Homo sapiens: one gene and its partners. The protein of the gene in region 2 purifies or fractionates together with the protein of the main gene of each other region. This does not show direct contact. Each region holds a gene or a part of one and is shown on either strand. Other genes may lie near its edges.

Region 1 (3,500 bases), on a different chromosome or scaffold from region 2:
TTGGTACAAAATAGAAGTAATGGTAGTTCTATTTTTAATTTCTTTAGGAACCTCCCTACTTTTTCCATAATGGTTGTACCAATAGTATACAAGGGTTCTCTTTTCTCCCACCCTCGCCAACACTTATCTCTTGTTTTATTTGGTAGTAGCCATCTTGATGGGTGTGAATATATGGAAACAACCTAACTGTCCAACAAAAGACAACAGAAAATCAAACTGCAGTACATATATAGAATGGAATATTATTCAGCCTTAAAAAAGAAATAGATTCTGCTTTTTGCCATAAGATAGGTAAACCTAGGGGACATTATGCTAAGTGAAGTAAGCCAAATGCAGAAAGAAAAATATTGTATTATCTCACATGTGGAATCTTAAAAAAAAGTCAAATACATAGTGAAATCATATCACTGCTTCAGATTTTATTTTTTGAGAGAGAAACAACATGTCTGTATGCTGTGAGTTAGAAACACCATAGAAAGGGAGATGTTGAAAATACAGTTGCCTGATTCCTTGCTTGTCATATTTTTTTTTTTGTGAATGAAGATTAGGTTGTCGCTTTGTTTGCCTACTCCTTCCCGGCTTGCAAAATTCATATCTGACCCCAACTGTCAGATATGAATTTTAAATGTCCTTTCTACTCTATTCTTTCCTGCCCCACAGTTCACTGCTGTCTTGCTCTCACTACGTCTGGCCCTTTTGCATACATTATTCTCTAACCTAATCCAGTTGTGCGTAAAAACTCCATTTTCCTTTATTAAAAGTTGAAAAATTTCACAGGAGTGTCTGCTAGGAGAATGGAGGAAATAATGATAACAAACATAAAAATCATTCAGCATAGCCAACATGTATTAATATCTGCTATGGTAAAGGCCCTGGATACAAAGATATATATGGCAGGAAGGATGAGTAACATAGGGATCTGATCTTAATGCATTTATGCCTAGTGCTCCATTATTGGAGCGCTAAGCTAGTGGGAGTTATTTATATCCTACTTCTCAAGGTCATCGCCAAGGCCTGATTTTTCACAAAAAAAATTTGCAACCTCCAGCATAAATGGGTTAAGGACCCCTCAGGGCAGTGAGAAAAATGGATATATAAATAAAGCAGCACCAGTACTTTGGGAGGCTGAGGTGGGTGGATCACCAGAGGTCAGGAGTTCGAGACTAGCCTGGCCAATATGGCAAAACCCCGTCTCTACTAAAAATACAAAAATTAGTCAGGCATGCTGGCATGTACCTGTAATCCCAGAGGCTGAGGCAGGAGAATCACTTGAACCCAGGAGGTGGAGGTTGCAGTGAGCCGAGAATGTGGTACTGCACTCCAGCCTGGGTGACAGAGCAAGACTCCATCTCAAATAATAATAATAATAATAATAAAATAAAAATAAAGCAATGCTTTGAGGGACAATATGTGCTATGATAGAGTTCAAGGTAAGATAGATGCAAAAAATGGACTTCATTATTTTTGTGATCCTGAAGGTCTCACAAAAGGTGATACCTGAGCTATAGCTTGAGATATGGCATGGTGAGGTTCGGGGAGTAAGATTAGGGGAATAAAATATTCCTTAATGGCCCCACGATAGCAGCAGAAGGGGCTTGGGTTTCTCATCTTCCCTTTCTTCTTGTTCTGCGTGATTTTATTGCAAGATATTTTTGTGTTTGAGGGAGTTCTTAGGGGGTTAATATGTTTCAGTTTACATATAGACGTATCAGCATTTTCTCCCTTGTGATATAAACTTTCTGTGAATTTACCAACACTGGTTTATTATATATTAGACAGCTAACACAAACCAGTGCAATTATATCAAGTATCTGGGGGATGAGGTCCAGGCAGTGATATTTTCAAAGCATCTTAGGTGTCCTCATGGCAGTCAGGGTGGAGAACCACTGGGCTAAAACATGGCTTAGAAGAAAAGGCTGGGATTTGGAGCTAAAAAATTGTAGATTAGATTCTTGAATTCCTTTTAATAGTTACGTATCCTTAGTTAAGTTACTGAGACTTCTCTAAGGCCATCATTGAAAAATAGGATGGTAGTATACCCGTCCTGCCTACCTGTTTTGCAAAGTTATATGGCTCAAAAGAGGAGATTTGTGTGAAGGAACATTATATGCAGATGTGATTATAACAATAAAATGTTCTCTTGACCTTCTCCAGAAGTGGACAGGCTTAAGAGCTGGCTACCTTGTCCTGTAAGATAGGAACTACTTTATGGATTTTGATTTAATATTTTACCATCACGAGCATTTTGATGATATATTTTACTACATTTGTGTAATGCTACAAGGTTGAAGACCTAAAGCCAAAATGCAGAACCTTAAAGAAATAGCAGTTGAGCATTTCCTGTCTGATATATTCTAATTGTTTAAAATTACACAGATGCTTATTGTAATTAAGATTTAAGTGTGTAGTCTCAGTGTCAGTAATATTTTAGTATTAAAATTCTCTAAATGTGTTAAGTGTTTATTTTCATGATATGCACATTAAAAATAGCCATTTTCCAGAAAATAGTAACAACTCCACAGAGCACAATGGAGCACCACAAATGGACTTATTTTGGAGATTCCCATTATATTCGTTAAGAATGCAGGGACATATACTGTGTCTCTGTACTGTAGGAAGCTTGACATACTAGTATCAGTCATATAATCGTGTAGGAATGATCATCCTTACAGTATTATACCTTATTTTAGTTGAGAAGAAAGTGGTATTGTTTAATGACAAATTGAACCTAAAGCCTAAAGACTGGGTTCCAGATCTGTTTTCTCTACTCATTCCTATATGATAATTGGTAAATTAACCTCTCTGAGCCTCATATGTAAAATTGGGTTCTCTGTTGTTTTGTAACATGAAAACCTTAGTGGCTGAAAACAACAATGATTGTTTGTTATCTCATGGTTGCTGTGGGTCAGCAATTTGAGGGTCCTTGCTTGGTTCTCTGGAGGTTGCTGTCAGATATCAGCAGGAGTGGAAGTTTTATAGGAGCATCACTGGAGCTAAAAGATTCACTTCCAAGGTGGCTTACTCACTTGGCTGGCCAGTTGGTGTTGGCAGGTTGGTTCCTTTCCACAATGGGCTTGCCGTGGGACTATTCTCATGAGATGGCAGATGACTTTCCCGAGATTCAAGCTGCCAAAGTAGAAACTGCAGTGCCCTTTATGACTTACCTGTGGAAGTCATACACCATCATTTCAGATGTATTCAATTGGTTCTACAGACCAGCCCTGATTCAGTATGGGAGTGGATTACACAAGGACATGAGGCAAGGATCATTGTGGACTGTCTTGTGAGGGTAGGCTCTCTGAGAGGATAACAGTCTCTACCTGACATAGGATTGCTTTGAGTTTCATTGTAAGCATTTATGTGAGAGTCCTTTGTAAACCATTAAAGCAGCATATAAATGTGTTATAGAAGTGATGGTGGCTCACACCTGTAATCCCAGCACTTTGGGAGGCCGAGGCAGGTGGATCACTTGAGGTCAGGAGTTTGAGAACAGCCTGGCC
Region 2 (3,500 bases):
TGACCAACATAGTGAAATCCTGTCTCTACTAAAAATACAAAGTTAGCCGGGCTTAGTGGTGCATGCCTGTAATCCCAGCTACTTGGGAGGGTGAGGCAGGAGAATTGCTTGAACGCGGGAGGCAGTGAGCCAAAATCGCACCACTGCACTCCAGCCTGGGTGACAGAGCAGGACTCCATCTCAAAATAAATAAATAAATGCTCATTCTCCTTGGAATGAGTGAATTAATGGTTTAGTATGACTTAACAAGGCCTTTGTTACTTGACCTCTTTTCAATTTGTATCAGTTTCAACTCTGCTTCAGCCTATAAAAGTTTTTAGGACTTTTTTTTTGTTGTTTTTTTTTTTGAGACAGAGTCTTGCTCTGTTGCCCAGGCTGAAGTGCAGTGGTGCAATCTCGGCTCACTGCAAGCTCTGCCTCCCGTGTTCACGCCATTCTCCTGCCTCAGCCTCCTGAGTAGCTGGGACTACAGGTGCCTGCCACCACGCCCAGCTAATTTTTTTGTATTTTTAGTAGAGACAGGATTTCACCGTGTTAGCCAAGATGGTCTCGATCTCCTGACCTCGTGATCCGCCCGCCTCGGCCTCCCAAAGTGCTGGGATTACAGGCGTGAGCCACTGCGCCTGGCCTTTTTAGGGCTTTTATTGGCAATGGTCTCCCTTGCCTCCAGTCATCTGTCATCTGAAAAGTAATAGAAGCTACAGTGAAGCTACTGAACAAATTAGAACTAGAAGCTTGGTATACAGATAATAAAATTGTGCCTTTACCTTGTATGGGTTTGGAATAAATATTTATTTATTTATTTAAGATGGAATCTTACTCTGTTGCCCAGGCTGGAATGTAGTGATGTGATCTCAGCTCTCTGCAACCTCCACCTCCCAGGTTCAAGCAATTCTCCTGCCTCAGCCTCCCAAGTAGCTGGGATTACAGGCACCTGCCACCATGCCCAGCCAATTTTTGTATTTTTAGTAGAGACAGGATTTCACCATGTTGGCCAGGCTGGTCTCGAATTCCTGGCCTCATGTGATCCACCTGCCTCGACCTCCCAAAGTGCTGGGATTACAGGCGTGAGCCATCATGCCCGGCCAATAATAATTTTTAAAAAGAATACTTTTTTTTTTTAGGAAGGAAGAGGAAGAACTGGGATGGCTGAATCACTAAACATTGATTCCTGGCCTTGCACGGTGGCTCATGCCTGTAATCCCAGCACTTTGAGAGGCTAAGGCAGGCACATCACCTGAGGTCAAGAGTTCAAGACCAACATGGTGAAACCCCGTCTCTACTAAAAATATAAAAATTAGCTGGGCATGGTGGCGGGCGCCTGTAATCCAGCTGCTCAGGAGGCTGAGGCAGGAGAATCGCTTGAACCCGGGAGGCGGAGGTTGCAGTGAGCTATGATGGTGCCACTACACTCCAGCCTGGGCGACAGAGCGAAAAAAAAAATTATTATTAATTAGTTAATTTTTTTTTACAGACACTGTCTTGCTCTGTTGCCCTGGTTGGAGTGCAGTGGCGGGATCTCGGCTCACTGCAAGCTCCGCCTTCCGTGTTCACGCCATTCTCCTGCCTCAGCCTCCCAAGTAGCTGGGACTACAGGCACCCGCCACTGCACCCAGCTAATTTTTTTTTTTTTTGTATTTTTAGTAGAGATGGGGTTTCACTGTGGTCTCGATCTCCTGACCTCGTGATCCGCCCACCTCGGCCTCCCAAAGTGCTGGGATTACAGGCGTGAGCCACCGCACCTGACCTAATTTTTTTTTTAAATAAAAATATTTTTGGCTAGACATGGTGGCTCACACCTGTAGTCCCAGCAATTTTGGGGGCCAAGGTGGGTGGATTACTTGAGCCCAGTTGTTCAAGACCAGCCTGGGCAACATGGCAAAAGCTCATCTCTAGTAAAAATATAAAAATTAGCCAGGTATGGTGGTGCACAGCTGTAGCCCCAGCTTCTTGGGAGACTGACGCTGAAGAGTTGCTTGAACCTGGGAGGCTGAGGTTGCAGTGAGCCAAGAGTGCCACTGGACTCCAGTCTGGGTGACAGAGTGACTCTGTCTCAAAAAAAAAAAGATACATATATATACATACATGAAAAACTTTTTTGCGTTTGCCTTCCCAAAATTCGGGGATTACAGGCTTGAGCCAGTGCGCCTACCCCTTTCCTGTATTTTTTATAAACTGAATTTAAGGAAACTGGTTGATAATAAAATTGGCAATAAGAGGTATTGAAGTTTAATTTCATGAATACTGTCTTTCCTAACAGCCTTGGGTTCAACATTGTGCTTTATGGTTTGGGTTCTAAGAGAGATTTACTAGAAAGGTTTCGAACCACTATGCTGCAAGATTCCATTCACGTTGTCATCAATGGCTTCTTTCCTGGAATCAGTGTGAAATCAGTAAGTTTCAAAAATGTTAAAGGGAAAAACATTATATCCTCTGCCAATTCAAGCCCCCACATAAATGAGGATGGAGTATTAAAGAATTTTTGTTTTAGCCTTCACGGTAGTAGGATTGTATAGTGCTTAATACCATGTGTTTGGACTCAAGAATCTAGCTTTGAAACCATCTTCGAATGTCCTACATTGTAACTGACATGTATTAAAACTTAGGAAAATGTTAGCTTTGTTTACTATACTGAGTATCAGTGGTACTTCTGAAGGAGGGAATTATGGGGTCTTCAGTTTTGTTATAAACTATGAAAATGCTTTATTAGGCAAAAACTACATGCTGTGAAAATGCTTTAAAATGCAACAGGATGTGATGTGAAGACTGTAGTTTAACAATACATTTATCATAGATCATTTTTATTTCAAATGCTTAATATCTCTTCATCATTTGAACATGAAATCTTTTGGGTGCTGGATATTGAGCCATATAGTATTCCTTTTTTAAAGTGTCTGTAGTGTTTGTGTCCTGTTTCCTTTGATAGAACTGTAGTTTTCTAATGTTTCTCATGTTCTTGGGAGCTTTTTCATTTGTTTTTGCTGCCCTCTTATATTACCTATTACCTGTACATCTTTGCTATTCTTTTCTGTTTTCTTTTAGCCACAACTTAGGCAAAAAACAATGAATTAGATATACTCAAGTACCAGTAGAATTTTTAAAAGTTATTTTTTAAACTTTTGGGAAATCCAAATTCATTTTTAATTTATAAAAAAAGGTTTGATTTTCTAGTTGTATATGACAATAAATTGTAATTAATGTGGTACCTCTTCCACATTCATGATATAGGTCCTGAATTCTATAACAGAAGAAGTCCTCGATCATATGGGTACTTTCCGCAGTATACTGGATCAGCTAGACTGGATAGTAAACAAATTTAAAGAAGGTAACATGAAGTAGATGCTCGGTAGTTTTAGAGTAAAGTTAAGCATATACTTCTACTTATTCATGTATTTATATACATACAATATTATTATTATTATTTTTGAGACAGTCTCTCTGTTGCCCAGCCTGGAGTGCAGTGGTGCGATCATGGCTCACTGCAGCCTTGACCTTCTGGG
Region 3 (3,957 bases), on a different chromosome or scaffold from region 2:
TCATGAGCAGTCTAAGTGCCTTTGCATATATTAACTCATTACAATTCCACATCAACCCTATTAGATGGGTAGATATATTATTATTCTATTAAACAGACAAGGAATTGAGGCTTAAGGGGTAAGTGATTTCACCAAGACCAGACAGCTACAGGACTCCAACCTCTCTGGAGCCTGCACTTCTACTGAATCTGGCTCTTTTACATATTCCAACACCTTTTCCTATGACTTCCTGCCCCTCCATCTGGTAGCCTTAATGCTTTCTATTCTTGCCTAATCTTCAGGGGACTAGGGATCTGCATTGCTGATTTGGTTTAAATCAGAAGGGAAGCAAAGTAAACAAACATACCAAATGTGCGCTGTGTGGGAATTATCATACGAGGGCTTTATTTTCTGCTTCAGGAAGAGGCCCTATGTTAGCAGCCCCAGCCTGCATTCAGGCTGATTGCAGAGTATTTTGCTTTTTATTTTCATGTCTTAGTCCCTGTACCCTCGCCCCTTCCCCGCCTCTGGTGGTCTCCAGAGAACTTCGTGTCCCCTCAGCTTCTCCCTCCTACATCCTGCCTACGTAGAGAAGCTCTTGCTTCATTCTGGGAGGTTACGTGGGCTCTCGCCTACACACCGAGAGAAACAAACAGTGTCAAACACTCACAGAGAGACGCGCAGACACAAACGGACCCACACGGGCAACTCCCGAGACAAAACCCACACTCGATGGATCCACGCGGCCGTGGAAACACCTGCCGCCCCAGAAACACTCAGGTACTCGCGACACACACAGTACAGTCACGCTTAAGGGCACCAGGATTCCGGGTTTGCGCGTATGCGCGGTCCCTTTGGATGCTCGTGCGCATAGACACAACACCCTACACGCCCCAGACCCACGAAACTCCCTACGGCTCAGCCCCAGCCCACCCGGGCCGCCCTTCCCTCGAGGCGGCCTCCCGTCTCTCCTCCTCTCGCTTCTCCTCCTCCTCCGCCTAAAGATGTACAAAACACTCCTCGGAAGCAACCCCGGCGTTCAGCTCCTCCCTCCCCGCCCCCCGGCCGCCGCTCCCCCATTCATTTTCGGCCGTCGCCGGCTAAGTCCCTCCCCCGGCGTAGCCCGGCCTCCGCCGCTCCCCGCCCGGAGACCGCGGCGCACTTGGACTTCCCTCTCCATTCGCCAGCCGCCTCGCTCCCGGACCCCACGGCTGCAAACTGATCTGGCGCGCGGGGAGGAGGAGAGCGCAGGCGAGCGAACCCGCGAGAGAGGGAGAGAGCGAGCGAGCAACAGCGAGAGCGAGAGCGAGAGAGCCGGGAGGCAGAGGGAGTAGTGACCGCCTTCCGGAGCCGGGATTCATGCCTGTCCTCGGGACCAGCGAAGGGGACTTTACGGCTGAGTATGAGCCAGGCTGCTAGGAGCCAGGTACCCCCACGCCTGCAGTCCCCGCGCCGTGCCCGGAATGCGAGCTGCACGCAGGGCTCTCCCAAGTTCCCACCGAGCCGAATAAAAAGCGTCCTCCCGCAGCTCTCCGCCAAAGACGGACATTGACTCCAGGTAAGGCGGCGCCGGGTGCAGCGCCCCGCAGCCCCGCTGCCCTTGGACCCGGCCCCGGGCCGCATTCGGGGCGTCCCCGCGCTCCTCTGCCCCTCCCCCTACCGGCACCCTTGTCCGCTCTTCACCTGGCCGCCCCGCCGCCTCCAAGTCTTCTCCAGTTCTAGGGAGGGGGTTCCTGTGCCTGGGGCTCAAAGGGCTAATTGCGGGTTTGAGTGAGTGGCGTGTGTGTCCCCGCGCGCTCCCGACGTGTGCACCATGGTGGGAACTTGATGTGGTGCTAGTGTGTTTGCGTGTGCGGCGTCGTTTGCGTTTGATGCGTGTGTTCGTGGTGTGTGTGTGTGTCCGTGTGTGTAAGGGAGGGGTGAAGAGAGAGAGGTCCTATAACCTACTTACGGCGCGATGTGTGTGTGCATGTTTGTACGTATGTGTTTGTATGTGTGCCCTCGTGTGTCTTTTTAATTAGGTCTCTCCAGCTTACACGGAATGGGACCCTTACTATAGGATCACGTAGTCACCGGGAAACCCGCTGTGGACTTCCTCTTGGGGCTCTGGGCTTGGGGTTTGGGGAGGATTATGGGGCTGTAGATGGCACCTTATTTAGCCCAATGTTGGTACGCTTGAAGGAAAATTCCTCCAAACGGTGGAATCCTGCTACACTGGGACCCACAGCTTAATATGAAAGAGACATGGCCAACCCCCGAGGCAAATGAGACGCTGTCACTTTAAATTCTACACTGGGCAGACTCCAAGATTCTGATGGGAATTTGGAGACACTGGATAGTGGGTGACAGAGAAAGGGGGAAGTCAGCGGTGGGCTCCTTATCTGGGGCTTGGAAAGTCTGGGATAGGGATTTACCCTGCATCCCCGTTTGCAATCAACAGAGCCCCTCCGGCTTCTGTTGGTTTTGGGGAGGATCTGGCAAGTTTGCATGGATCCCCCTCAGGGGAAAGGAGAAAGCGTCCTCGGGGACTTGCTCATCCATCACAGTTGCAAAGGGTCTCAGAGGAAATTTCATCTGGGGCGGCTGTGGATGATATGGAAGGAGATGGATGGGGCACTTTCCTAAGACAGATTCGTCTTTCTTTCCCCATTTCAGGCGGGGAAGCCCCCAGAGAGTCTCTCCCTAAATATGCCTCTCCATGGCTCCCCTGGAGTTAGGGGGATATTGAGAGAAGGCAGAGAGGTGGAGAGGGAGAGAGAGAGAGCAAGAGCGAGAGAGAGGGAGACAGAGAGAGAGAGTGTTTCAGTACTGAGGGAGATCTACAATTTGAAAAGGGGCTGTGAGTGTGGAACCCATGACAGAATGTGGCAGTAATTGACTTAAACTGCTGTCGGTTTGCACCTCGCGTCTCTCACTTGGCTCCAAAATACTGCCAAGGGCAGGGGGGCGGTGGAGGAATCTCAGCCAGGAAGGTAGTTTGGGTCAAGGCCCTCTTTCTTCTTTCCTCCATCTCCTGGGAGGCTCTTTAGGTAGGTCCCTTGGCCACCCTGGCTTGGTACTGTTGGGCTTGGGCTCTGGGGCCAGCCATTGATTTGATTCCCAGCTGCCTCTTAAAGGCTTGCCCTACTCAGCAAAAATGCTGAGTTTTACTGCTGTTAGCATGGCTTCCAGACTCGGCAGCTGTTACTTTCTCAAGGTAAGCGGCAGCCGTTCTGCTCTCAGGCAGGGAGGCTAGGAGAAGACAAGGGCTGTGACGCTGGGACACAGCCTCTTGTCTAGCTCAGCACGGAGGGGCCGCTGAAAAGCCCTCTTAGGGGAAAAAAGTAGAAATATATTTGGCCTAAAAAATGTACACATATATTCTAGGAAGATATATATATATATATATATATCAATCACACACACACACACACACACACATGTGTTCATATTCTGGGGAGAGATAAAAGCAAACATGTATTTGTAGGAACCTGCCCTAGTGGGTGGGTTCTACCTGCAGGCACTTGCAGACATACCATTCTCTGTCCAGAGGCTGATACCTCAGGCTGAAGCCTTCACATAGCCACAGAGAATCTCCTTCAGGAAACTCATGTCAGGGCAGAGCTCCCTGGATTATCTTGGGTAGGGGGTACTAGGGCCAAGGAGGAGACCCATTTTTGGGAACTGCCTCATTTTCTCTCTTTCCTAATTCACAGACGATCGAAACTGGAAGGAATATTAAAGAGCAGAAAGGCAGGACTCTGTGGCCTAAAGAGGGAATGAGAATTCCCCAACATTCAGTAGTGGGTTAGTGGCATGCCCAGGACTAGAATCTAGGCTTATCAATCAGCTAGATCAATACCCTTTCCACTCCTCCCAGCAATATACACTCTAGGACTGTATATTGCTCCCACCCCTATCTTGCCAACCTGCCACCATGACCCCTACCAAGACAATCGCTTGTCTTCCCTCATCAAACTTCACATTTTCAGAGATGCA
Region 4 (3,500 bases), on a different chromosome or scaffold from region 2:
GGCCCTTTCAATTATAGCCACCCTTGATCTGAAGCTTTTCTGTGGCTTTTCAGAGCACTGGCCTTTAATTTATGTCAGCACTACTTATTTTTGGCATTTTACAGCTGTGTGGGACATCTATCTCATTTCTTTCAACTTTGAAATATGAAGTCAGTGCTTGTGATTCCAATATACTAGGCAAAAAAAAAAATTTTTTTGTACACTTTCTGAAAGAGAACATTTTGGAGAGTGACTGAAAAAGAATTCCCTTATTCACAAAAAGTCTACTCCTTTTACACCGGGATTATCTTGCTGTTATTTCCACCAAGAATGAGTACTGTGTTAAGCTCAGGAAACAATTTTTGAGTACCTAGTATAGGTTAGGTGGTATATTTGGGGCTGGGAACACAAAAGATAAAAAAGACTGTCTAGCTCCAAGGGACATAAAATATCTACCTTAAATTCAATCTTATCACCAAAAATAAATTCTATCTTTCAGGAAACTTATGAGCCAATAAATAACATAATCCCGTGAAAAATACCTTATCTCCTCCAAAATTCTTTTCAAAGCCTATTCTTAATCATCTTTTTGATGATTTATATATTGGCCCATTTCTAAGAATTAAGGGATTGTCTGTTTGGAGGAAGCTATGAGAAGGTGACTTTCAAAAATTATTTTTATCTTTGGGTTTATCTTTTTCTTCCTTTTTTCCCCTAATTTGAAAAATAATTACAATTAAGAACATGTATTTAGTATTGAAAAAAAAAACTACAAAAAAAGCAGAAGCCAATAGCAATTGCCCCTCTTAGAATCAACCACAACATGTTTTCAACTCCCACTTAATGCCCATCACCTCCTAAACCACTAGCCCAATTCATTCCCCATCTCAACCCCTACATAATCCCTGCACTCTTATCACTGAAGGAAAAAGCAGAGGCAAAGGTAAATATAGAATCATAAAATCTCAAGATTAGAAAGGGCTTTAAAAGACATGATTGCTGAATATTGATTTACTCACTGCAATTAACTGAACCCCCAGAGAGAGCACGCTCCCTTCAACTTCTAAAAAAACACAGCAAAAACCACAGGTATAACAAAAACAAAAGCAACTATAATAACAAGCCTCCCCATTTTAAAGACAAAGTTTACTACTGTATTTGGTTAAATGAATGATGGGAATTTTTCTTCTTTGTTAAAAATGTTTTGGCTTATAAATGTAGTACTTCACAGAGTTGTAGTTCTGCAAGAGAACTTTTAAAAAGTGGGCAAAGACCTTTCAGTACATTAAGTACAAATGTTTGTTAGTTCTTGATTGTAACTACTCTGGCATAATCAAATAACCCACATTTTTAAATGGAAAAACTGTAGTATGTTTATTTAATGCCAATAAGCAAAAGTGACAGCCTTACATTTGCTTATCAAGATAAATTTCTTCAAGTAAAATTTTTTATAATAAAGGTATCTCCTCAGATAAAAAAATCAAATGACTTAAAATCAAATAATGCTACTACATAGTAAGTCAGTTGCTACCAAAGGATATCTTTGGGAACTTAGAGGCCTACACACAGAAAGACTACTCAAAAATAAAGAATGCTTCCCAAAATATTACCAGCTTCTTGTTCCAGGGTTTTAGCTTGGAATTTCAAATATAGTATCATCTTAAGATACTGTATTTGCCTCTCTCTCTCTATATATTTTTTTTTTTTAGAAATTATGTTTTTAAAAGAAGTAACATATGGTTTGGAGTTGAAGTCAATGAGAGCCCTAAACATAATTTTTGTGTTATTTCAGAGAGAAGTAACAAAGGCCAGTAGCAGATCACATATGAGAGGCACAAGCAAGCAGAAGTCACTGATGGAGTTAGGCTGTTTTCTAAAAGGCCACTGCCCCCAATTTCCTTAAGTTTCCTTTCAATACTCTATAAATCTATAATACTTTCAGTGATCAGGCCCTTCTCCCATGCTAATAAGGGACCTGTGCTGGTTGGCAGACTGACAGAAATGTATACTAAAAGCCATGCAACTGATCAATTAATCAATTCATGTAATTTATTTGCTTTCTTTCTCCCACGTTAGAATAGAAGCTCAAGGAGAGCAGGTAGTTTGTCTTATATTCACTGCCAGATTCCTAGAACAATTCCTGGTATACGGCACTTGCCTGTTGTGTATTTCTTGAATAAAAGTCATTCTCTTACTTTAAGATACACTAGTGCCTTACATTGAGACAGGGTTGACACCACAGGATAAGCTAAAGGTCCTTGGCCTTCTTTTTACATGTTAAGTATTATGACAGTCACTGTATTACTAAAGTAAACATGTTTTGTTTACTACATTTGACTGTTTACTTTATTTCACTGACACCCAGGAAAGCAACAGAGACTGACATATGTACAGTACAGCCTTTTTTGCTACAGGCTTGACATTCTATACTGCTCCACCCCAAAAAACTTCACCTTAGTAAGACTGCAAATAGATGAGACTTTTGACATGTGTCAGGAAATTTTCAGCTTATCCAAGATAACTATATTAAATTTGGCAAAGGGCAATTTACCTTATTATAGAGAAATAACAATTAGGGATAAGTATCTGATGCTATACTTCCATAGAAGAAGGACATGAGCTTATTTATCTTTGGGTTTTAATACTTTTGTATTCACACTAATTCTAGATATTTGGAGTATACAACACTAAATGAAGCTATGCCAAGGCAAGCCGGAGGGATTTCTAATATCATTTACCATACTTCCTCCTTTTCTTGAGTAAATTTCAAAATGGAGTATTTTTATAAACATTCCATTAGAGACCAAAAGGCTTTGATTTTCAAAGTAGCAGTGATGGCCAAAGGCTTCATTGTGCCAGAAAAAACACTGCAGAGCAGTTTGGGAGCTACAATTGATATCGGAACTGTATTCTGCCAGAATCTAACAGAAGCTTAAAGGATTTTTCAGCTTGCAATATTAACTGATACATACATTCTGGATGAGAGAGAAAAGGATGCCAGTTCCCCTTGTCCAAATAGCTCTAAGAGATACAAGATCATTTCTGTCCCTAGTAAAAGAGAAATGGAAGTCCTATTGGTATGACCTTTGAGGTGGTATAACTAAACTAAAGAGCATCTCTAACAACAAAAAGTTCCTAAGACCATATTTTCTCATAGTCTATCACACAGAAAAACAGGACGTGTTTGAAGAAAACAAATGTGGTAAAAGAATACCACACCTGAGTACCAAAAAACTAATAAGCTCTAGTGCTACGCTACTATCCTTGAGCAATTCACTTTGCCTTTCTGGTTCTCAATGGCAATTCCAACAAAATGGGTAAATGCAGCAAGCCCAGTGGGTGGCCAAGACTGCCAAAATTCAGAAATGCCTTCTTGAGGAGGAACAAGGGGGACATTGGGGAAGTCAGTCCACTTGCCTCATCAAACTTTGACTTTATATGTTTCCCTCACTTGGTAGCTGAGGTAATGAAACAAAGCGAAAGCTATCTTTGGACCTGGACCAGCTTTTGTGGTGTGGCCT

What was found.
Region 1: the proteins of ORC2 (region 2) and IMMP2L purify together in Homo sapiens (co-immunoprecipitation; one large-scale study listed by IntAct). This does not show direct contact.
Region 3: the proteins of ORC2 (region 2) and BRINP1 purify together in Homo sapiens (affinity purification with mass spectrometry; one large-scale study listed by BioGRID and IntAct). This does not show direct contact.
Region 4: the proteins of ORC2 (region 2) and OBI1 purify together in Homo sapiens (affinity purification with western blotting; one study listed by BioGRID). This does not show direct contact.

Annotation. Positions count from the first base shown.
Region 1 is NC_000007.14:111,552,493-111,555,992, reverse strand, and holds part of IMMP2L (mitochondrial inner membrane protease subunit 2), read left to right. Parts: intron 1-3,500. UniProt on the Homo sapiens protein: Catalyzes the removal of transit peptides required for the targeting of proteins from the mitochondrial matrix, across the inner membrane, into the inter-membrane space. Known to process the nuclear encoded protein DIABLO.
Region 2 is NC_000002.12:200,925,661-200,929,160, reverse strand, and holds part of ORC2 (origin recognition complex subunit 2), read left to right. Parts: intron 1-2,260; coding exon 2,261-2,393; intron 2,394-3,228; coding exon 3,229-3,325; intron 3,326-3,500. UniProt on the Homo sapiens protein: Component of the origin recognition complex (ORC) that binds origins of replication. DNA-binding is ATP-dependent. The specific DNA sequences that define origins of replication have not been identified yet.
Region 3 is NC_000009.12:119,366,636-119,370,592, reverse strand, and holds the start of BRINP1 (BMP/retinoic acid-inducible neural-specific protein 1 precursor), read left to right. Parts: upstream 1-1,157; 5' UTR 1,158-1,537; intron 1,538-3,957. UniProt on the Homo sapiens protein: Plays a role in neurogenesis and brain development. May suppress cell cycle progression in postmitotic neurons by inhibiting G1/S transition.
Region 4 is NC_000013.11:78,617,656-78,621,155, forward strand, and holds part of OBI1 (ORC ubiquitin ligase 1), read right to left. Parts: intron 1-3,500. UniProt on the Homo sapiens protein: E3 ubiquitin ligase essential for DNA replication origin activation during S phase.